2 linked regions of the Homo sapiens genome follow. The protein of the gene in region 1 purifies or fractionates together with the protein of each later gene. This does not show direct contact. Each region holds a gene or a part of one and is shown on either strand. Other genes may lie near its edges.

Region 1 (11,422 bases):
TGAGACAGAGTCTCGCTCTGTCACCCAGGCTGCAGTGTGATGGCGCGATCTGGGCTCACTGCAACCTCTGCCTCCTGGGTTCAAGTGATTCTCCTGCCTCAGCCTCCCAAGTAGCTGGGATTATAGGCCTGTGCCACCATGCCTGGCTAATTTTTGTATTTTAGAGTACATGAGAGAGTATTTTTGTAATTTTGTATTTGTAGAGATGGGGTTTCACCATGTTGGCCAGGCTGGTCTCGAAGTCCTGACCTCAGGTGATCTGCCTGACTCAGCCTCCCAAAGCGCTGGGATTACAGGCGTGAGCCACCATACCTGGCCTGTTATTAGTTTTTTAAGTTAGACACTGAGATTATTGATTACAGATCATTCTTTGGTGGTATATGTGTTCAATCGTCTACATTTCAGCCAGGCACTCCTTTTGCTGCATTCTACGTGTTTTGATAAGTTCTATTTTTATTTAATTCAAAATAATTTTTAATATCTTGAGACTTTTCTCATCCATGCATTATTTAGAAGTTCAGGATTTAATATCCAAATATTTGTGGGTTTTCAAGCTATCTTTCTGTTATCAATTCTGGATCTGAGAACATGTTTTGTATTCTCTAGTCTTTTAAATTTGCTAGGAAGTATTTTATTTACCAGAATGTGAGATATCTTGGTGAATATTCCATGTGAACTTGAGAAGAATGTATATTCTGCTGTTACTGAATGAATTATTCTGGATTTCAATTAAGTCCAGTTGTTTTGATGGTGCTGTTCAATTTAATTATGTCCTTCCTGATTTCTGCCTGCTGGATCTCTAAATTAATGCTGGGGGTTATTGAAATATACAGCTGTACCAGTGAATTCATGTATTTCTTCCTGCAGTTGTATTAGTTTTCCCCTCATATATTTTGCCACTCTGTGGTTATGTACATACACAGTAAGGATTGCCTTGTCTTCTTGGTGAATTAACCCCTTTGTCAGTATGTAATGCCCTTCTATCACTGATAATTTCATGCTATGAAGTCAGCTTTTTCTGAAATTAATAAGGCTGTGCCAGCTTTTAAAAAATTAGTGTTGGCCGGGCATGGTGGTTCATGCTTGTAATCCCAGCACTTAGGGAGGCCAAGGCGGGCACATCACGAGGTCGGGAGTTTGCCACCAGCCTAACCAACGTGGTGAAACCCTATCTCTACTAAAAATATAAAAATTGACCAGGCATGGTGTCTCACGCTTGTAATCTCAGCACTTTGGGAGGCAGGCGGATCGCCTGAGGTCAGGAGTTTGAGACCAGCCTGGCCAACATGGTGAAACCCTGTCTCTACTAAAAATACAAAAATTAGCCAGGCGTGGTGGCAGGTGCCTGCAATTCCAGCTACTCAGGAGGCTGAGGCAGAAGAATCGCTTGAACCTGGGAGGCGGAGGTTGTAGCGAGCCGAGATTGCGCCATCGCACTCCAGCCTGGGCAACAAGAGCGAAACTTCGACTCAAACAAACAAACAAACAAAAAATATTAGCTGGGTGTGGTAGTGTGCGCCTGTAATCCCAGCTACTCAGGAGACTGAGGCAGGAGAATCGCTTGAACCCGGGAGGTGGAGGTTGCAGTGAGCCAAGATTGCGCCACTGCACTCCAGCCTGGGTGGCAGAGTGAGACTTTGTCTCAAAATAATAATAATAATAATTAGTGTTAGCATAGTATATCTTTCTCTATTCCTTTATTTTTAATATATCTTTGTGATATATTTATTTATTATTACTTTTTATTATTATACTTTAAGTTCTAGGGTACATGTGCACAACGTGCAGGTTTGTTACATATGTGTACATGTGCCATGTTGGTGTGCTGTACCCATTAACTGGTCATTTACATTAGGTATATCTCCTAATGCTATCCCTCCCCCCTCCCCCCAATCTTTGTGATATATTTAAAGTGGATTTGTTGGCCTAGGTATGGTGGCTCGCACCTGTAATCCCAGCATTTTGGGAGGCTGAGGCAGGATGATTGCTTGAGGCCAGGAGTTTGAGACAAGCCTGGGCAACATAGTGAGACCCCATCTCTATAAAAAGAAACAAAATTATCAAGGGATGGTAGTGCACACCTGTAGTTCCAGCTACTCAGAGGCTGAGGTGAGAGTCCTTTGAGCCCAGGAGTTTGAGGTTATAGTCATCTGTCATCCCACAACTGCACTCCAGCCTGGGTGACAGAGCATGGCCCTGTCTCTAAAAAACAAAGTAAAAAAAAAAAAAAAAGCGAATTTCTTGCAGACAACATATATTAGGTATTCTTTTTTCTTTTTCTTTTTTTTTTTTTGAGATGGAGTTTTATTCCTGTTGCCCAGGCTGGAGAGCCATGGCGCGATCTCGCCTCACTGCAACCTCTGCCTCCCAAGTTCAAGTGATTCTCCTGCCTCGTGAGTAGCTGGGATTACAGGCATGTGCCGCTGCACCTGACTAATTTTGTATTTTTAGTAGAGACAGGGTTTCTCCATGTTGGTCAGGCTGGTCTTGAACTCCTGACCTCAAGAGGTCCTCCTGCCTCGGCCTCCCAAAGTTCTGGGATTACAGGCGTGAGCCACGCCTGGCCAGGTGTTCTTTTTTATCCACTATGACAGTATCAGTGAGCTGAGATTGTGTCACTGCAATCCAGCCTAGGCAACAGAGTAAGACTCTGTCTCAAAAAAAAAAGAAAAGAAATAAATTTCTGGTCTGATAATTCCAGCATCTCTTTTATATCTCAGTCTGGTTCTGATGCCTGCACTCTCTCTTCAAACCGTCTAAGTCTTTTAATATATCTTGTAATTTTTGTTGAGATCTGGGCATGGTGTTGAAAAGGAACTGAGGTAAACAGGCTTTAAATGTGAGGGTTTAGGTTTATCCTGTTGATTTTAGGCTGTGTTTACTATTTTCAGTAACTGTAGGTGTCAGATAAAATTGCCTTTGGTGTCCCTGGTTTTCTGTGTTCTGTCATTTTTGGGGTTCTCTAGAGATTTCTTCAATTGTGAAACATGCAGAAAGAAATAGAATATTGTTTCATTGTATTCTACTGTTTTATTTTATTTTATTTTATTTTATTTTTTGAGGTGGAGTTTCGCTCTGTCGCCCAGGCTGGAGTGCAGGGGCACGATCTTGGCTCACTGCAACCTCTGCCTCCCAGGTTTAAGCGATTCTCTTCCCTCAGCCTCCCAAGTAGCCGGGATTACAGGTGCCCACCACACCCGGCAAATTTTTGTATTTTTAGTAGAGATGGGGTTTTGCTATGTTGGCCAGGCTGGTCTCAAACTCCTGATGTCAAGTGATCTGCCCGCCCCCCGCCTCCCAAAGTGCTGGGATTACAGTCGTGAGCCACCACACCTGGCCTGTTCTACTGTTTTAAAACAAAAACCCAGGCCAGGAGTGGTGACTCATTCCTGTAATCCTAGCATTTTGGGAGGCCAAGGCAGGCAAATTACTTGAGGTAGGAGTTCGACACCATCCTGGCCAACATGAAGAAACACCCTGTCTCTACTAAAAATACAAAAATTAGCTGGGTGTGGTTGTGTATGCCTGTAATCCCAGCTACTCTGTTGGCTGAGGCAGGAGAACTGCTTGAATGCTGGAGGCAGGGGTTGTAGTGAGCCAAGATTGCACCACTGCACTCCAGCCTGGGTGACAGAGCGAGACTGGGTCTCAAAATAAAAACAAAACTCTAATGTCACACTGTTACCAGTGGCTGGAGTGGAAACATGATATAATCCTATGAATCATCTGTCTTCTGGTGAGCCTGTGCCCCGAGCCATGATGTTCTTTGCTATGATAAGAAAGACATTTGTTTGGTCTTTGTGTGTGGTTCCTAGTACAGAGTTCCTAAATCTCTTGGAATTTCATGAGTGATAAGGGTAATGGACCCTCTCTTGTTGTAAATAAATGACTACTGGAAAGAATGCCTACCTAACTTCAGGGTGGGGATTGATGTCCCGAAAGACACCCAGTCTTGATCTTCCTCTAGCCCTAGCCCCCAAAGTCGGGGGAGAGAAAAAGGGCTGGAGGTTTAGTGCTTGGACTCCTGACCTCAAATGATCTGCCCACCTCTGCCTCCCAAAGTGCTGGGATTATAGGCGTGAGCCACCCCGCCTGGCTTTTGACTGCTCACAGCTTTAAAACCTCATTCCTCAGTTTCCACTGTGTACCCCACATATGGACGTGGTAGGAAGAAAGCCTGGGTCACCCTCATTTGGTGCTGGCGACAGAGCCAATTCGCATCAGCCTCCACCTGTATGCTTGAACTCACACTAGCCCACTCCCTAATGTCAGTAAAAATCCCCAGCCAGGCTCCTTTTCTTGCTCTCCGAAGCCACTTCACAAGTGCTTGAGAGTTACACAGCTTTGCCTGAGAGCTCAAGCATGCGAGTAATAAACCTTCATGAGTACAGGGGTTTATAGAGGTCCAAGTTGCTGTGCTTTCTTTCCAATAACCTCCTAGACCCATGAAATGAGACAGAAAGGAAAAACTGAACCTATGATAAATATTACACAAACACGTTGAAATTAATACTAATGCAGAAGAATATTTTCATTCAGCCACCTGGATTTGCATGGTTCTAATGGCCCGAGATCCTTCAGGGCAACATGGCCAGTGACTTCTGGCTTTTCACAGACTTCCTGATCTCTCATGTTGTTTATGAAAAAGAAAAATACACAGTTTTTCATCCTCAATGGGAGATGTGCAGCTTATAGTCTAAAGGGTGTATTCATTTATTAAAATCTCATCCAGATTTGACCCCAAGTTTCATGAAATGCTGAGTGGTACAGTATGTAATAAGGTAGAAAATGAAAGAGTTTTTCTCACGAGGAATTGATGATCTTACAATTTGTTTCATTTGTACAGCATTTCTCTCATATATCCAAGATGGTCTTGGGTCTGTATTTAAAGAGCAATAAGGTGGCCGGGCGCGGTGGCTCACGCCTGTAATCCCAGCACTTTGGGAGGCCGAGGGGGGCGATTCACGAGGTCAGGAGATCAAGACCATCCTGGCTAACATGGTGAAACCCCGTCTCTACTAAAAATACAAAAAATTAGCTGGGCGTGGTGGCACGCGCCTGTAGTCCCAGCTACTTGGGAGGTTGGGGCAGGATAATCACTGGAACCTGGGAGGAGGAGGTTGCAGTGAGCCAAGATCGCACCATTGCACTCCAGCCTGAGCAACAGAGCAAGACTCCATCTCAAAAAAAATAAAAAGAAAAAGAACAATAAGGCTTCAAGTGATCACAGTTAAAATATAGAAATAATGGCAGGGTGCGGTGGCTCACGCCTGTAATCCCAGCACTCTGGGAGGCCGAGGCGGGCGGATCACGAGGTCAGGAGATGGAAACCATCTTGGCTAACACGGTGAAACTCTGTCTCTACTAAAAATACAAAAAATTAGCTGGGTGTGGTGGTGGGCGCCTGTAGTCCCAGCTACTCGGGAGGCTGAGACAGGAGAATGGTGTGAACCCAGGAGGCGGAGCTTTCAGTGAGCCGACATTGTGCCACTGCACTCCAGCCTGGGCGACAGAGCAAGAATGTTTCAAAAAAAAAAAAAAAAAAATATATATATATATATATATAGAGAGAGAGAGAGAGAGAGAGAGAGAGAGAGAGAGCGCAATAATTTTTGTATGTTCACGATAGTGTTAAATTTATGAGGAAGTGAGTATGGAAAGAGTCAAGAGTTCTGACAACCAAGTTATACCACTAAACCGAGACTACAGGATTATATGGAATTTCTCAGGAATTCTGAGAATGGATCCTCACTACTGCGAATCTCTCTCCTCCTCCTAAACACACATGGGGGATGTTTTAGGACTCCATCTCCCTTGAGGATGTGGCTGTGAACTTCACCCTGGAGGAGTGGGCTTTGCTGGATCCTGGCCAGAGGAATATCTACAGAGATGTGATGCGGGCAACCTTCAAGAACCTGGCCTGTATAGGTAAGGGTGACATAATTTCTCTACTTAATTAAGGAGGGAACAGGTGTTTCTTGCACAACAACTGAGTTCCAAGGTTTAAAATGGGGGAAGGGGCCAGGCACGGTGGCTCGCGCCTGTAATCCCAGTGCTTTGGGAGGCTGAGGCGGGCGGATTAAGAGGTCAGGAGTCTGAGACCAGCCTGACCAACATGGTGAAACCCTGTCTCTACTAAAAATAAAAAATTAGCCAGGCCTGGTGGCAGGTGCCTGTAATTCTGGCTACTCAGGAGGCTGAGGCAGGAGAATTGCTTGAACCCGGGAGGCCGAGGTTGCAGTGAGCTGAGACCGCGCCATTGCACTCCAGCCTGGGCAACAGCGAGACTCTGTCTCAAAAAAAAAAAAAAAATGTGGGAAGAGAATACTTTAGTAAGTAGATCAGACAGTGTCATAGCTAATCAATAGCTAATCATGGATCTTAGAGTGTTATAATTTTCTATAATTTCTAATAATTTATTGTGAGTTCTCTGGGCTTGTATTTTAGGGGAAAAATGGAAAGACCAGGATATTGAAGATGAACACAAAAACCAGGGAAGAAATCTAAGGTGAGTTGCATTCACAAATAATTATATAGCCCCTGAGAGAATCTTAGTATTTCATAAATTTCAAAAGCCAAGCAAGCAAAACAATAAGCAGAGTTTCAGGTTTATTCATTCTTAGAAAATTTTTACTGAAGGTGTTTCATTGAAACTGTCATGGGCAGCCAGGCGTGGTGGCTCATGTCTGTAATCCCAGCACTTTGGGAGGCTGAGGCCAGTGGATCATGAGATCAGGAGATCGAGACCATCCTGGCCAACATGATGAAACCCTGTCTCTACTAAAAATACAAAAAATTAGCCGGGCGTGGTGGCGTGCACCTATAGTCCCAGCTACTCGGGAGGCTGAGGCAGGAGAATCGCTTGAACCTGGGAGGTGGAGGTTGCAGTGAGCTGAGATCGATCCACTGCACTGCAGCCTGGTGACAGAGCGAGACTCCGTCTAAAAAAACAACAGAAACTGTCATTGGCTGGGTAAGGTAGCGAATACCTCTAATCCCAGCCTTTGGTAGGTGAAGGCTGGAGAATTGCTTGAGGCCAGGAGTTCAACACCAGCCTGGTCAACATAGTGAAAACCTGTCTCTACAGGAAAAAAAAAAAAGCAATAGATGTTCAGGGTGTGAGAAGAAATCACTATGAAACAGCATTTAAAAATCCTGGCTGGGCGCAGTGGCTCACGCCTGTAATCCCAGCACTTTGGGAGGCTGAGGCGAGCGGATCACCTGAGGTCAGGAGTTTGAGACCCCGTCTCTACTAAAAAAGATATAAAATTAGCGGGGCGTGGTGGTGCATGTCTGCAATCCCAGCTACTTGGGAGGCTGAGGCAGGAGAATCACTTGAACCCAGGAGGCGGAGGTTGCAGTGAGCTGAGATCACGCCACTGCACTCCAGCCTGGGCAACAGAGAGACTCCGTCTCAAAAATAATAATAATAATTTTTTTTTAACTATTTTGATAATAGCTATGGTCACGGCCTGTTCTAGACTATTGAGTATATTAGCTTTCAAAACAATTTAGACAGGGCAGATAACATACAGTTTCTGTGAAAATATTTAAAATGTAATTCTGGTACTTGCTAATAAATATAAGATCATTAATACAAAACTATTAATAATACGGTACTCATTCTTTACAGAAGTCCTATGGTTGAAGCACTCTGTGAAAATAAAGAAGATTGTCCATGTGGAAAAAGCACTAGCCAGATTCCTGATCTTAATACGAACCTGGAAACTCCTACTGGATTAAAACCATGTGACTGCAGTGTGTGTGGGGAAGTCTTCATGCATCAGGTCTCCCTTAATAGGCACATGAGATCTCACACTGAACAGAAACCAAATGAGTGTCACGAATATGGAGAGAAGCCACATAAATGCAAAGAATGTGGGAAAACCTTCACTCGCAGCTCCAGTATTCGAACCCATGAAAGAATTCACACTGGAGAGAAACCCTATGAATGTAAGGAATGTGGCAAAGCCTTCGCATTTCTCTTTTCCTTTCGAAACCATATAAGAATTCATACTGGAGAGACACCCTATGAATGTAAGGAATGTGGGAAGGCATTCAGATATCTCACTGCTCTTCGGCGCCATGAAAAAAATCACACTGGAGAGAAACCCTACAAATGTAAACAGTGTGGAAAAGCCTTTATATATTACCAGCCTTTTCTAACCCACGAAAGGACTCACACTGGAGAGAAACCTTATGAATGTAAGCAATGTGGGAAAGCCTTCAGTTGTCCCACGTACTTACGGAGTCATGAGAAAACTCATACTGGAGAGAAACCTTTTGTATGTAGGGAATGTGGGAGAGCCTTCTTTTCTCACTCAAGCCTTCGAAAACACGTGAAAACCCACACCGGAGTTCAACCTTATACATGTAAGAAATGTGGGGAAGCCTTCAAGTCATCTAGTTCCTGTGAAGTGCACGAAAGAACTCATTTTGGAGAAAAACCCTATGAATGTAAACAATGTGGTAAAGCCTTCAATTCTTCAAGTTACCTTCAGTTGCACGAAAGAGTTCACACTGGCGAGAAAACTTACGAATGTAAAGAATGTGGTAAAGCCTTTCTTTATTCCACTCACTTTCGAATCCATGAAAGAACCCATACTAGAGAGAAACCCTATGAATGCAAACAGTGTGGTCGGGTCTTCATTTACTTCAGTCACCTTCGAAGGCACGAAAGAAGTCACACTGGAGTGAAACCATGTGAGTGTAAGCAGTGTGGCAAAGCTTTCACTTGTTTAAATTCCCTGAAAGTACACAAAAGAATTCATACTGGAGAAAGACCCTTTCAGTGTAGACAATGTGGTAAAGCCTTCAGTTACTCAAAGTCTTTGCACGTGCACGAAAGGACTCATAGTAGACAGAAGCCCTAAGAAAGTAAAGTGTGGTAATGCTGTCAGTTGTATTAGTTCCTTTTGGATGTATGAGAGTACTTACGCTGGAGAGAAATTCAAGGAATGTAAACGGTGTGATTAAGCCTTCAGTTGTCCTAATTCCCTTTGAAGACGTGACTCATGCGGCAATGAAATATTTAACAAATGGGGGAGGAACTTGCACTCTCCTGCGGGATTGCAGATATGTGAATGGACTCCATGGACAGAAAAGCTACGAATGTATGGAGTGTAGGAAAGCCTTCACTTCACGTAATCTTTTAAAGACACCTGAGAATATATACTGGAGAGAAACTATAAAGAAAATTCTATATCCATCCCATCTTTTGTGGGGTTTGTTTTTTGTTTTTGTTTTTGTTGAGATGTAATTTTGCTCTTGTTGCCCAGGCTGGAGTGCAGTGGTGCGATCGCGGCTCACCGCAACCTCCGCCTCCCGGATTCAAGCAATTCTCCTGCCGCAGCCTCCCAAGAAGCTGGGATTACAGGCATGCGCCACCACGCCTGGCTAATTTTGTAATTTTAGTAGAGATGGGGTTTCTCCATGTTGGTCAGGCTGGTCTCAAACTCCTGACCTCAGGTGATCTGCCTGCCTCGGCCTCCCAAAGTGCTGGGATTACAGGTGTGAGCCACAGCACCCAACCTTTTTTTCCCCGCCGCACCCCAAGATGGTGTCTCACTCTGTTGCCCCAGGCTGGAGTGCAGTGGTGTGATCCTGGCTCACTGTAACCTCTGGGTTCAAGCAATTCTTCTGCCTCAGCCTTCCAAGTAGCTGGGATTACAAGTGCCCACCACCATGCCCAGCTAATTTTTATATTTTTAGTAGAGACAGTGTTTCACCATGTTGACCAGGCTGATCTTAAACTCTTGACCTCAAATGATCCACCCACCTTGGCCTCCCAAATTGTTCGTTTTACTTTTTTTTTTTTTTTTTTTTGAGCTGGAGTCTTACTCTGTTGCCTAGGCTGGAGTGAAAGTGGCGCAACCTCTGCCTCCCAGGTCAAAGCAATCCTGCCTCAGGCCCCCTAGTAGCTGGCATTACAGGCACATGCCACCACGCCCAACTAATTTTTATATTTTTAGTAGAGACGGGGTTTCACCATGTTGGCCAGGCTGGTCTTGAACTCCTGACCTCAGGTAATCCACCTGCCTTGGCCTCCCAAAGTGCTGGGATTACAGGCGTGAGCCACCACACCCGGCCCCCAGTTCTTTTTTTTTTTTTTTGAGACGGAGTCCTTGCCCAGGCTGGAGTGCAGTGGCGCGATCTCAGCTCACTGCAAGCTCCGCCTCCTGGGTTCACGCCATTCTCCTGCCTCAGCCTCCCGAGTAGCTGGGACTACAGGCGCCCGCCACCACGCCCGGCTCATTTTTTGTATTTTTAGTGGAGACGGGGTTTCACCGTGTTAGCCAGGATAGTCTTGATCTCCTGACCTCGTGATCCGCCCTCCTCGGCCTCCCAAAGTGCTGGGATTATAGGCGTGAGCCACCGCGCCCGGCCTCCAGTTCATTTTAAAACCATGAAACCACCCACACTGGAGAGCCACCTTCTTAAATGTAAGCAATATGGGAACATCTTCAATGACATCTGCAACCATTGTCGAGATTCTTCGTAGGAAGAATTAAAGGAATGGGGAAGAAGGACTTGGGCCCCAGCAGGCCTTTTGTGGCATCCAGTCAGAAGTTAGGAAACACCCTCTAGGGCAGTGCCTGCCCTCAGCTCTCACACATGACTGGAGAGAAGTGAGAAGACTCCCAGAATCTGCCTTTTAAGTTTCCATCAGTGTCCTCGGGTCAGACTGTGGGAATGCTGTACTTCTAAGACAAAGGTTCGCATCTTACAGTTTTTCCCCAAGTGGGATCTGCCTATGCACATCCTAATTCACAGACATTGTCAGCATTGCATTATTCCAGGGCTGTTTTGAGGTCATCTCCAGCTCCATTTCCCATCTCAAACCTACACTTTGGACACTTGTTTAAACATTCACATCTGAATTTCTCTGTGGCAACCGCAGGTGGCTCTGAGGTGAGAGACTGAAGAAGCAGAGCCTGTATCATGGGACACACACCCCTTGACCACACAGCATCCACTCTCCTGCGGTTACCAGCCCTGCACCAACCACCACAGTCAGAATAATCTCAAAACTGCTAGTGGAGTCACAGACACACTCTGCCATGTCTTAGCTGTAGGACACTCAGAATTCTTACCTCCCCTAACTTGCTTTCCCTGTTTTCTGGCACATTCTACCCTGAGATATTCAGCGGCATATGCACTGATGATGCTCCGGCCTTCTCACGTCAGTGCATGTCACATGCATCCTGCTCCAGGACTGGTTTCCTAGCCTCCCGCTAAGACTAGCACTTAGCTCTTCTTGGAAAAGGACCCACCCTGCAGCGCTCCAGCTCTGTTGTGTATGGGAGGTGCTGGTGTCAGGGTTCACAAGCCATGGAACTACCTTGCTTCACATCACAAGGCAAGGTGAACTCAACTCCCAATAAACTGCTTGCTGGAGCCTCCGAATTCTCCGTTTTCTGAA
Region 2 (11,436 bases), on another chromosome or scaffold:
CCTGCAGTAGGTCAGCACTCAGAGCTGTCAGGTGCAGACCTGGACCACGATGAACAAGGAGATCGGTCAAACGGAGCCAGTAACAGATGGTGCATCTCAGGCAAATAAAAGCATCCTCTCTGAGAAAGCCGAGCTCCAGTTTTATGTAAGGGTATGGAAGCAAGGAAGAGCTGAGCCGTCTGTGCTCATCAGACCCCACGGGCTTGGAGGACTCCAGGACAGGCTGACACCTGTCATCCCAGCACTTTGGGGGGCCAAGACGGGAGGATCGCTGATCTTGGCTTCTCCTGCTCTGAGTAGGATTCATGTAGGACGAGTGGCTTCAGCAGGGTCCCTGCCCAATCCCAGGTCCTCTCCACCCGAAGCCATCCTTACTGCCTCCTCTGGAAATCCCTTCTGCCCTGGAGGGTCCCTCTCACTGCGTGCTCCCTCCTAAGCCCCTTTGCTGTCTGCACCTCCCCTCCAGAGCCTCCACAGGGGGTACCCCAAGCTGGCTACCTAGACCTCCGTCCCTCTACATGCAGCACTTACCTGCCACCCCCAACTCCCAAGCCGGCATCCTGGCGGCCCCTCGCCCTGCCAGGCCCCGGACGGCAGCTCCACCTGATGCCTGGAACCAGGAGCAGCCAGGCTCTTTGAGTTTTGCCAGTATCCCCATGAAAATATTTCCTAAAATGCCACTCCCTGCATCTCAGCTGACAGTATAAACTGTTCATCCCTGTTTTAAACAGCTGCAAGGGACATCATTTCCAGCATACTGTAAATACTGAGTTAAAATAAAACTGCCATGTCACTCTTGTAAATATATCTATTAGAATCTAGGCACGGTGACGTGACAGCCATGGCCATCTATTTACAACGCACACGAACAAGCTCTTCTTAAGGCCAGAAAGTATACACTTCTTCCTCTAGGAACTCCTATTTCTGTTACTACAAAATGTAAACCCAACGTTATATATTCATGCTTGAAATCACTCTATTGATTCACCCTACTGTAACTTTTTGCAACACAAACATGCATATAAATTGAATTCGTCTTGATTTCCTACAACCATAGGGCTGTGCTAACGTCTCCCGAATCATCACCGCAGTACACTCGTGTGTAGCTTCCTGACAGGATTCTGAGAAATGCATTGCTATGGGATTTTGTAGTTGTGCAAACATGATAGAGTGTACATACACAACCCTAGATGGTATAGCCTACTACACACCTAGGCTATACGGCCCAGCCTACGACTCCTAGGCTGCAAACCTGTACAGCACTTAACTAACGGAATACTGTAGGTACCTGTAACACAATAGTAAGTATTTGCTTATCTAAACATAGAAAAGGTAACGTAAAAAATGCGGTCCTATCATCTTACAGGACCAGCATGGTATATGCGGTCCACCATTGAACCATATCTCCTTTTCACAGTGTGACTACAATTGGAACACCACTGATCAAAACAGAAATAGTCTCCACTTCGATAAATCATCATCTGATATAAAAGCTGTGTTTAATAGAAGAGAAAGAGCTTTTTTCCCCTAATCAGTTCACATAGCATGGACAAATGCTCGCCTCTGTCCCTATTCCTCTTTCTAGAAATGCGAGCACAGAGAAGCTGGTTCCAGAAATAAGGAGACGGGAGCAGAAGGGGCTTGGTCACAGCAGAGTCCCCCAATGCCACATCCTCTTGAGTTCTGAGCCTGAATTCATCAAAGATCAACTTGTCATCAACGATCACCATGAACACCGCTGGTGTAGAGGCTCCCGCAGCTGCTGCAGACCTGTGGCCCACGGGGGAGCCACTCCCCAACACCCTTACATCTGCTGGGACCCCGCAGTTTCCACACCCCAGGGCCATGACTGCAAGAGGAGGGACCTTTCCTTAGGAGGAGCCTTTTGAGGAGCGGACGTGGCCCCGGGGCAGGGTCTTCTCCCACTCTGAGGGAGAGTTTGAAGATGTCTGCTCTACAGGGCCCCTGAATGCCTCAGGTCACCTGCACCTCAGTAAATAGTAGCTCCAGTCACCCACCATGCATTTCCAACCAAACCAGCAGCAGGCCTGCCTGGCTCTGGAACTAGGCTCTGTCCTGCCCCATCTCCCCTTCTGCCTCCGAGTTCTGTGGAGTGGAATCATGCAGGGCCTGGATTCCAGTGATGCCAGCTCCATTCCCCACACACAGCCAAAAGATGCAGACTCTGCCCCGCCACTGCTCAAAGCCCCTCAGTGGCATCCACAAGGCAGTCAGAAGAAAATCTCTGCCTGGTGCATGGCCCCTGCTGCCCCACCTCCATGGCCACACTGGCCTGTCCCATCCTGGGCTCATCCCACCCCAGGGCCTTTGCATTTGCCACCATCTGCCTGGTGGGGGCAGGCACCACCGCACCCACCTCCACCAGAGGCTCCCTCACAGCACTGGTCTCCACTGTGGCCCCTCCTCAGACAGCCCCTTCTAGTCCCAGCCCCCAAGTGCCCCATCCCCTGCCCGCCACCTGCCTGCCCTCCTTCCTTTCTTCATGCTCTTCCCATCGTCTTACCTGAGAGTTTTATGATTTTCTGTCTACACCACCTCCACTCCCCTGCCCAGAACATTAGGTCCACCAGGTGCAGCCCTCTCTCCATTCACTACAGCGTGGGGGCACATAACAGGTGTTCAGTAAACATTGGTGGAAAGAATGCATGAATGGCCGAATGAATGAATATCTGCCCACACCAGCACTGTGAGGGGAGCTGAGCAGGGCCATCCACACTTTGCAAATGAGGAACGGAGTCTGAAAAATCATTTAAGTCACCGCTCACCATCCCAACCTCTTGAGCGCACGGGTGGAAGACACAGTTGCCTTAAATCTCCCTTCAATCTGCAAAATGGCAGGACTGTTCTTTCCTGGCCTTCTGTACAGATAATGACATCGAAAATGATATGAGAGCCACATCCTAAGTGAAAAGAGTTCTTTGTCAAATATAATTATTCTAAGACAAGCTAGCAGCCTTCCAACTACAGTTGATTTTTAAATTTATTTATTTGTCTTCTGGAGAAATAACCGTCCCGCCTGCTTCCAAAATGGAACATTTAGCTTGTTCTTTGCTGGCTACTTTGCGGCAAAAAGTATGAATCACAGATAGAAGAAAAACAAACTATAAAAAAAATGGTGTTTTTGCTCTTGAAAGTCTAAATTATAGAGCTACTATTTCTTAATCGTTCACCGTGAGGCAGCGATGTCAGGAAATCTGGGGAAGGAGTGAAGCAGTGAAAACGTGGAACACGTGAAAATGTCCGAGCTTGAAACAAAATACGGTAGTGGTGTGTGCACCGGGGTGGGATCACCACCCTTATCGAGTGTTGACATCATTGCATTCTCCAAGGAGAACTGTCACTGCTACCTTTTAAGGTACATCACAAAGCCAGTGGCTCCTTCACATGTCACCACCCTTCAGGAACCAAGCTAGGTTCTCCAAATTCACTTGAGTCTGGCTTAAGCCAATGTGGTTTTTTTAAAACGAGTGTTGGTAGCTTTAAATACACACACAGGTCCACGTGTCTCTGATCACACACTTGTTTCTACCGTTTTAAACTCCCTTTGGGGACTTGGGGGTGAGGGGCAATTTCTGAGCATTTGTGGGGGAAAAAACCATCCACTACATTAGGGGGTTAAGAAAGGTAAATGGGTGATAACTCTAACCACCAGATAGGAGTGTTTATTTCCATGAGTTTTCATTTCTATTTTCTCAAGGCTAACCCCTGCGTGAACACCTCCCCTCTAGCAGGACGCTGCGCGTGGCCCCCGTCCCCACCTGTCCACGCGAGGCGGGCCTCACCTGAGCGGCCGGGCACGCCCCGTCCCCGAACGGCCACCCACCCCGGGTAGGCACGCGTCACCTGTCCATCCACCTCGCTACCTTCTCTCTGCCACCAAAAGGCTTACGAAAATAAGGCGCAGGGGGTCTGGGAGACCCCATCACCAGGACTCAGCTTCTCTAAACGCGGGGTTGGGGGTCCAGGGACCCCCCCGTGCGACCCGCATGGGCTGTACCCGAGGGCGGGGGATAACGACATCCCCTGGGGCCTCGGCGACGACGCCGCCCGGCGGCGGGGGCCGCGGGGCCGCGGGCCGGGGCGGCGAAGACCCTGCGCCGCGCCCACGGGCGAGCGCGGCCCGGCAGCCCCGCGGCCCCGCGCTGGGCCTGGCCGCGGGCGGGCGGGGGGCGCGAGGCAGGGGACGGGGGCGCGGAGCCCGGCCAGGAGCGCCCGCGGCGGCGGGACCCGGCGGGCGGGCGGCGCGCAGGGCGATCCCGGAGCGGCTCCGGGAAATCCAGCCGGGTTTTGACTCCGATCGCCAACGGTGCCCGCAGCCGGCGAATGTAACAAAGAACAGTCGGCATGGCGGCTGGACCGGGGCGGCGCGCGGCTGCCGGGCGCGGGGGGCGGGGGGCAGCGGGCCCAGGGCGCGCCGGGGCTCGCGGGGGCAGCGGGTGCGGCCCGGGGCCGGCGGGGCGCACGCCGGGGCGGGCGGCGGGCGCAGGGCCCGGAGCTTTACCTGCCTTTGGAATGTGCAGAGCGGGATCGGATCCGGACTCCGGGTTGCGATCCGCTCCGGAAACTGCGCAGCACCGGAAGCCGGGGGGCGGCGGCGGGGCATGGCGGGACTTGTAGTCCGCGGGCGGGCGCGGGGGGCGCAGGCGAGACCCTGGCGCGGCCGGGGGTCCTGCGGGTGGGACTGCGGGGCGCGGGCGGCGTGGACGGGGCAGCGGGCGCGCGCGGGGCGGGTCTGGCCGGAGGGAATTCCGCGCGCGGCCCCCCTCCCACGTGGCACGGCCCTGCCGCCCACGCGCGCGGGCAGCTCCCTCTCCACCTCTCCTCGGACGCGTTTCTTGCGGAGTTGGGGAGTGGTGGCGGTGGGTGGGTCGAGTTTTTCTCTAGAACAGGCCTGGGACTTGCCCCCACTCACGGTGACCTCTGGATTTGGCCGGCGGGGCCCTGGGACACGAGCTCTGTGCCCGCGAGGGGAGTCTGGCCTGGCGGGCTCCGCCACGCTACCGGTGAGCACCGGGCCAGCCGCGGACCTGGCTCTCCATTCTTCCCCGGGGGCCTGTGTGGCCTCTCTTGACCCCCTCCACCAAGTGTGTGTGCCATCACAAAACGTGAGACGGAGAAGGGACAGACTTTTCACCTTAGTCCTGGCCGCCCATATTCAGAGAGGCCGACTGTCTTGTTCATTGCTGCCTGGCAAAAACCTACATTCATAAAGAGAAGTGATGAACCGGGGAAAATGATTTTAAATTGATGCCACAAAAGGGCTCGTTTCCCTCATGTACGTGAAACTCTTGTGAACCAATAAAAATATATATGTATATAGAAAAATGAGCAAAGTGTGTGGATGGACAGTTCGTAGGAAATTCAATGGTTCTTAAGCATATGAGAAGCTATTCAACTACGCTGCAATAAGAGAAAAAAAGTCGCAGTGGGATCATTTTTATTAGATTAGCAAAGATTTTTTAAAACGTTTAATACAACCTGGGCAACATAGCCAGACCTTGTCTCTAAAAAACTTAGCTGGGCTCGGTGGCACGTGCCCGTAGTCTCAGCTACTCAGGAGGCTGAGGCAGGAGGGTCACTTGAGTCCCACAGTTTGAGGCTGCAGTGAGCTGTGATCGTGTCACTGCACTCCAGCCTGGGCAACAGAGTGAGACCCTGTCTCAAACAAAAACAAACAAAAAAAAGTTTTAATAGCATAATTTTGAAGAAACTAGAGAAACAAGCTCCTTTACGGGTAGGAGAATAAATTAGCGTAGTTTCCATTCAGATATTTGTGGATATCCATAAAAATTCTAAATGCACATAGCCTTTGACCCACATGCAGGAATGGTGCCAGAGACGGACTCGCTTGTATGAATGGCATATGTGATCATCACATTTGCTTACATACTACGTGCCATCCCATGGGAAGTGTTGGATGCACCTGGGCACATCCATAGGCTGCAACGCCGGGCAGCCGGAGACAGATTAGGCAAGTGTTGATCTGTGAAGGCTGGTTTCTCTGCCTGGCCCAGCATTCTACAGTGGCTTCCATGTTGCACTATAGTAGGCCATCCCATGGCCCCCCAGACCTTTCTGGAGCATCCCCGGCGTCCACTGTCTCCCTGCTTGTCCCCACCTGCGACTTCATGCCTCCCTCCAGCCTCCTGTCCCTGAAGCCTGTTCCCAAGGCCTTCTGTACTCTATCTTCAAACACTTCCCAGGTTTTCCACAACCTTCTCTGTATTCAGGTCTCCGCCCAACCCCACTCCCACCACCACCACTACAGCTAATGGACATTCCCTCTATACACGCACCTCCAGTGACATCACTCACAGTTCCAAAATGGCCAGATGACTGGTTCTGTGGGCCTCAGGACATGAAACAGTCCTCGGCATATGTGAATAAAAGGTTGTTTACACTAAAAAAGTGACAGGTCCACAGCAAGTGCGAATAACTGAAAGTAAACCAAAGACTTCAACCTCCCCCAGGCCATTTCTCCTATTACTACATACAGCCCACGGCTGGAATTCACTTACACAATAATCGTCATATCTCGTCTTCAAGAGGATTGTCAATGTGTCCACTATAATCCTTCAGAACAATCTAGAAATAATACCTCTTAAGGCAGATTCATCTCCAAAATGTTAAAAGAAAAAAAAAAGTTTTATCTTAAAGTGTCAAATTTTCATTATTAACAATTAATGCAATATACAACTTTGAAAAATGGGCAGAAAGAAAGAAAAAACAACTATAAAGGTTGTTATTGAGGAAAATGGAAAATCTGAACGTGAACAGTGATACCGGATAATAGTATTGGATCAATGTTAAATTTCCCAAGGGTGATCATTGTATTGAAAGTATGGTAGCCCGTGCCATTCATTGTTCTCACCAAATTGTTCTGAAGGATTTAGGGTGAAATATTGTGATATCTGCAAACGTGACAGAGACCGAGAGAGAGCAGATGTGGCAAAACTGGTGAATCTAGGTGAAGGCTATATGGGTTGTTCCGTAGGTTTGAAATTAAAAATAAATGAGTTGAAAATTTAAAAAACAACAGACAAGAGCTTCCATGGCTATCAGTGAATTTCCTTGTGAACACTTAATTCTTCCTGAAAGATACTAGATGGGATTAAGATGTAATTAATCACTGAGGGCTATGCCCGCAGCCCTGTGGACCGCCCGCCCGCCCGCCTTAGATCAGTACTTTTCCAATTAGCACGTCTCCTGGGCTCTGGTTTTGTTATAATTCAAATACAAACCTACTGCTGTGCAAAGCATGATAGACATCCTCAACCACCTCTCCAGCCACCTCCAGCTTTTAAGAAAAAAAAAATTGGCTAATTTTTCTCATAAAGAGGGAAGTCTGATCATCAGCGAATAAGTTAATTCCTACTAAATATGAAACATTGACTCTCACTTCATGTTATTCTCACCCAAAACAGGCAGCATTAAAGTTCAAAAAAGACCATATATCCTTGAAGAGTAACTGCTGAACTTATTCACTGGCAGTGGGCCTTATAGCACAGTGAATGACCAGGTTAGAGACATGCTTCACATTTGCTTACATACCCACAAATTAGGGGATGATGTATCTGGACTGTCTAGTAGAACTTTATCATAGGAGTATGTAGATTTTCCATGGAGTGCTGTTGTGTGACTTGAATTTTAGTCTTGGCCCTGCCTCTGACTTCCTCAGTGATTTATCCTGGTTCCAGGGAAGGAGACCAGCCTTTTCCTCATGCTAGTCTTTGGTGGTTTTTAAACATTTGTTTAACTCAACAAATGAAATGTATCATATGCCTGACACCGCTACACCAGTTTTTTTACATATAAAATTGTTAAAAATTTTTGGCCAGGTGCGGTGGCTCACGCCTGTAATTCCAGCACTTTGAGAGGCCAAGGCTGGTGGATCATTTGAGGTCAGGAGTTTGAGACCAGCCTGGCCAATGTGGTGAAACCCCATCTCTACTAAAAATACAAAAATTAGCCGGGCATGGTGGCGGGTGCCTGTAATCCCAGCTACTCGGGAGGCTGAGGCAGGAGAATCACTTGAACCTGGGAGGCGGAGGTTGCAGTGAGTCGAGATCACGCCATTACACTCCAGCCTGGATGACGAGAGCGAGACTCCTTCTCAAAACAAAACAAAACAAAAAAACATATAGGACCATAGTCCTTAATCTCTCCAATCGACACAGGCAGAGCCAGAGACTCACGGCTGTGAGCAGAGGTTCTCCAGGCAAACAGCCAGTGCTCAAATTCTGGTCTAGCCAGCTGTCAGCTTGGGCAAGTTACTTAACCTCTCTGTGCCTCAGTTTCTTAACCTGTAAAGCTGAAATAGATCATGCCCCATGGAGTTGTTTCAGAGAGTATATGAGTCACTACATATAAAACTATTTGAAAAATTCTTGGCACATATTGAGTGTGCAATTATTATTAGCTATTGTTGTGATCTCAAGTCTTTCTCTAACTTTATTTATTTTATTGAGATGGAGTCTCACTCTGTTGTCCAGGCTGGAGTGTGTGATCTCAGCTCACTGCAACCTCCGCCTCCCAGGTTCAAGCGATTCTCCTGCCTCAGCCTCCCAAGTAGCTGGGATTACAGGCATGCGCCACCAGGCCCAGCTAATTTTTGTATTTTTGGTAGAGACAGGGTTTCACCGTGTTGGCCAGACTGGTCTTGAACTCCTGACCTCAGGTGTTCCGCCCGCCTTGGCCTCCCAAAGTGCTGGAATTACAGGCGTGAGCCACCGCGCCCGGCCTATTATATAAAAGCTATGCTTGCTACCGAGCTAGACTATAAATTAATACATCCCCTGGGCTTAGTCCAGTGCTTCACCTGGTACAGCAATGATGATCACCAGCTGATAACCCTTCTATTAAGGTGCCCAACGTACCTGCACGTCCAACTTTATAAATATCGATGACATTAATATAGACCTATAAATACATAGGCAACTAGTTTTGAATGCCTGTTACAGCAGGGCGTGACTCGCAGTTTCCACTGTGGACAGTCACAGTGTGGAGCTGGGGAAGGCCAGTGGAGGAAAGCTGTTTCTAGGTCATGATTGGGAAGGAGGGCCTGGCCTTGGCAGCTTTCTCTCTAGGGGGATCACTGTGCTATGTCAGCCATCCTGGTGTCTAGCCCCCTTTGGTGAGTGATCTGCATTTTAAAAATAAACTTTATTGACATATACACACATCACCCTGTCTTTGTAGGGGTGCTAAGGTCAAAACAGCATGTGGTCATCCCCTCCAGTGTCCTGCTCAGTCCCCAGCACCAGGTCCTGGGCGATGGAGGGTGAGGTGGGTGGAAGCAAAGCTGCTGTCTGTGCTCACGTAAGGGTCATCAGCTGACCTTTGTCCTTGCTCTGCTAGGTGGGCAGTGACTGTACGAAGCCCCGGGGGATACAGGAAATGAGAGCAATGCAGGACAGTGAAGCCTGAGAGCCGGAGGCCTGGACCGTGCCGCTGCAAGCACGCCAATTCCGCAGCCTGCAGAGAAGCTCCTTCGTGGGGAAGGCAGGGCTTGAGTTGGGTTAGACCATTCGAAGAGTGAGTGTGAACTGCTGGGCACGAGGATGCACACTCCAGAATGACCGAGGGTGGTTGAGTTGGATTAATTTGGGCAGTGGAGACGCATTGGCAAACAGTGCTCATCTGGAGGTGATCAGCTTAGGAAAGTTGGTAAATTAGGACAAGCTTGGCCTCCAGCAACTCAATCCAGCCTCCTCCTGGAGCATCAGCACAAAGTGGGTCCCTCTGGCCACACAGAGGAAGCAACAGTTCAATCACTGGGTCCTGAACCACTTCTAACTCCAAACAAGAGGCACTGCCATCACCACCTTGTGGTGCCCAGGAAATGGAGCAGAAAACCTGGAACCCAGCTGGGAAGCATCGGGCTCCCTCTAAGGGTCTACACGGTGTCTAGCGAGCGGGCGGGACAGCTGAGAGGAGGGGTGGGCAGTGTGGGGACAGGAGGCTGGGCCTGTCCAGTAGCTTTCTCCAGGACACCAGCTCTCCACGTGCTCTGCTGTCTGGGCACCGCAGGGGGAATGAAGACTGAGGGAGACCACGGGAACTGATGACTAGAAAGAAGGCACGATGCCTGCATGGGGCCCGCAGGACACGTCTGTGACCCGACTCGACCGCCTCCCTCCCAGAACCACCGTGAGCCCCAGGCAAGTGCCGACGCTGTTCCACCTGTGGCTGAGCCAGGTACCTGTCCCCTCTGCATGCACCCGGGCCACCCACCGGGGTGGGGAATGGACAGTGAAGTCCAAGGATGACCTGATGAAAGGGGCGCTCAGAGAAGACCCTGGGACTTCCAGGACAGAACAGGACTCGGGAAAAACAACTCAGTGTAGTGTTCTGTGTGCACATTTATTTCTTTCAAAGATTGTTTGTGTTCCAGCCACATCTTCTCCAAAGGAACCCACCCAAGCCCGTGTGCAGGCTTGCTGCAGGGCTGTCTTCGGCGTTTAAAGTGCTACTGAGGAATACAATCATTGTCACGTAAGTTCATCACCGCACTCCAGCGTCAGGCCAAACCTTTCCGTGGACCTGGAAAACCTGCCACTTTCTTCTCTTTTTACAATGCAGTTTCGACATAACATTGGTAGAGTAAACAACAAACCACAAGCCTAAATGATGAATGGTGCGCTGCTGCCCAGCTGCTAACTGAGAGAACGAGGCAGTGTATTGTGTTTCGAATGCAAACGGTCATGGACCCAAGTTAACCTGAGTTTGCTCTGCAGGATTCCGCGGGGGCCTTGCCCTGTGCAGGCTGCTTTGGTCTTCGTGTCTAGGCCGGTTTGGGGCAGTGGGGAGAGGGCCTGGCAGCAGGGTTTACGCCAGCCCCGAGGTCTGTTTTCCGTCAGACAGAGATACGTGTCCTGCCTTCCACCATCCACCAATTTGTACTCTGAAGTTTCCAGATCAAGAGCCGTGAGATTACTACCCAGGAAACACCTGCCTTCGGTGGCCAGCAGTGTAAATTAATCTTTCCCTCTCTGCTCAAAGCAACTTTGCAACTCTCGTCTATAGAGGTGGCCAGTAAAACCCAAGCAAAAATCTAAACGGGCACCAGGTGGCCACTGAGTGGCGACTGGTCGAGTAGCAGTTGGTCATAAGGGATCAGGGCTGGTTTTGAACTCAGACTTGAAACTTGACGAAAATAAAGTGCTCTGTCAAAACTCTCACAGCAGGTTTTCAGCTGGAACAAGGAGATGGCTACTTTTTGTTATTGCTACAATAACACACGCGTGTGTGCAAACACACATAACACACACACACACTTAAAGCTCCATTTCACTCCTCCACAAAGAACAGAGGCACCTCCTTAAACAAAGCAAACGGGGAAGGGTTGCAAGCTCATTAAAACCAACATGAGCACCCAGTTCCAGAGATACAGACACAATTAATCTTAGTGTTCAT

The links.
Region 2: the proteins of ZNF490 (region 1) and PRDM15 purify together in Homo sapiens (affinity purification with mass spectrometry; 2 studies listed by BioGRID and IntAct, with this or other methods). This does not show direct contact.

What each region holds. Positions count from the first base shown.
Region 1 is NC_000019.10:12,577,936-12,589,357, reverse strand, and holds part of ZNF490 (zinc finger protein 490), read left to right. Parts: intron 1-5,801; coding exon 5,802-5,928; intron 5,929-6,447; coding exon 6,448-6,508; intron 6,509-7,633; coding exon 7,634-8,873; 3' UTR 8,874-11,422. UniProt on the Homo sapiens protein: May be involved in transcriptional regulation.
Region 2 is NC_000021.9:41,874,748-41,886,183, forward strand, and holds the start of PRDM15 (PR domain zinc finger protein 15), read right to left. Parts: upstream 4,598-11,436; 5' UTR 4,523-4,597; intron 4,394-4,522; exon of another isoform or gene 4,249-4,393; intron 4,114-4,248; exon of another isoform or gene 4,010-4,113; coding exon of another isoform or gene 3,948-4,009; intron 3,826-3,947; exon of another isoform or gene 3,804-3,825; intron 3,777-3,803; exon of another isoform or gene 2,790-3,776; coding exon of another isoform or gene 2,787-2,789; intron 2,436-2,786; exon of another isoform or gene 1-2,435. UniProt on the Homo sapiens protein: Sequence-specific DNA-binding transcriptional regulator. Plays a role as a molecular node in a transcriptional network regulating embryonic development and cell fate decision.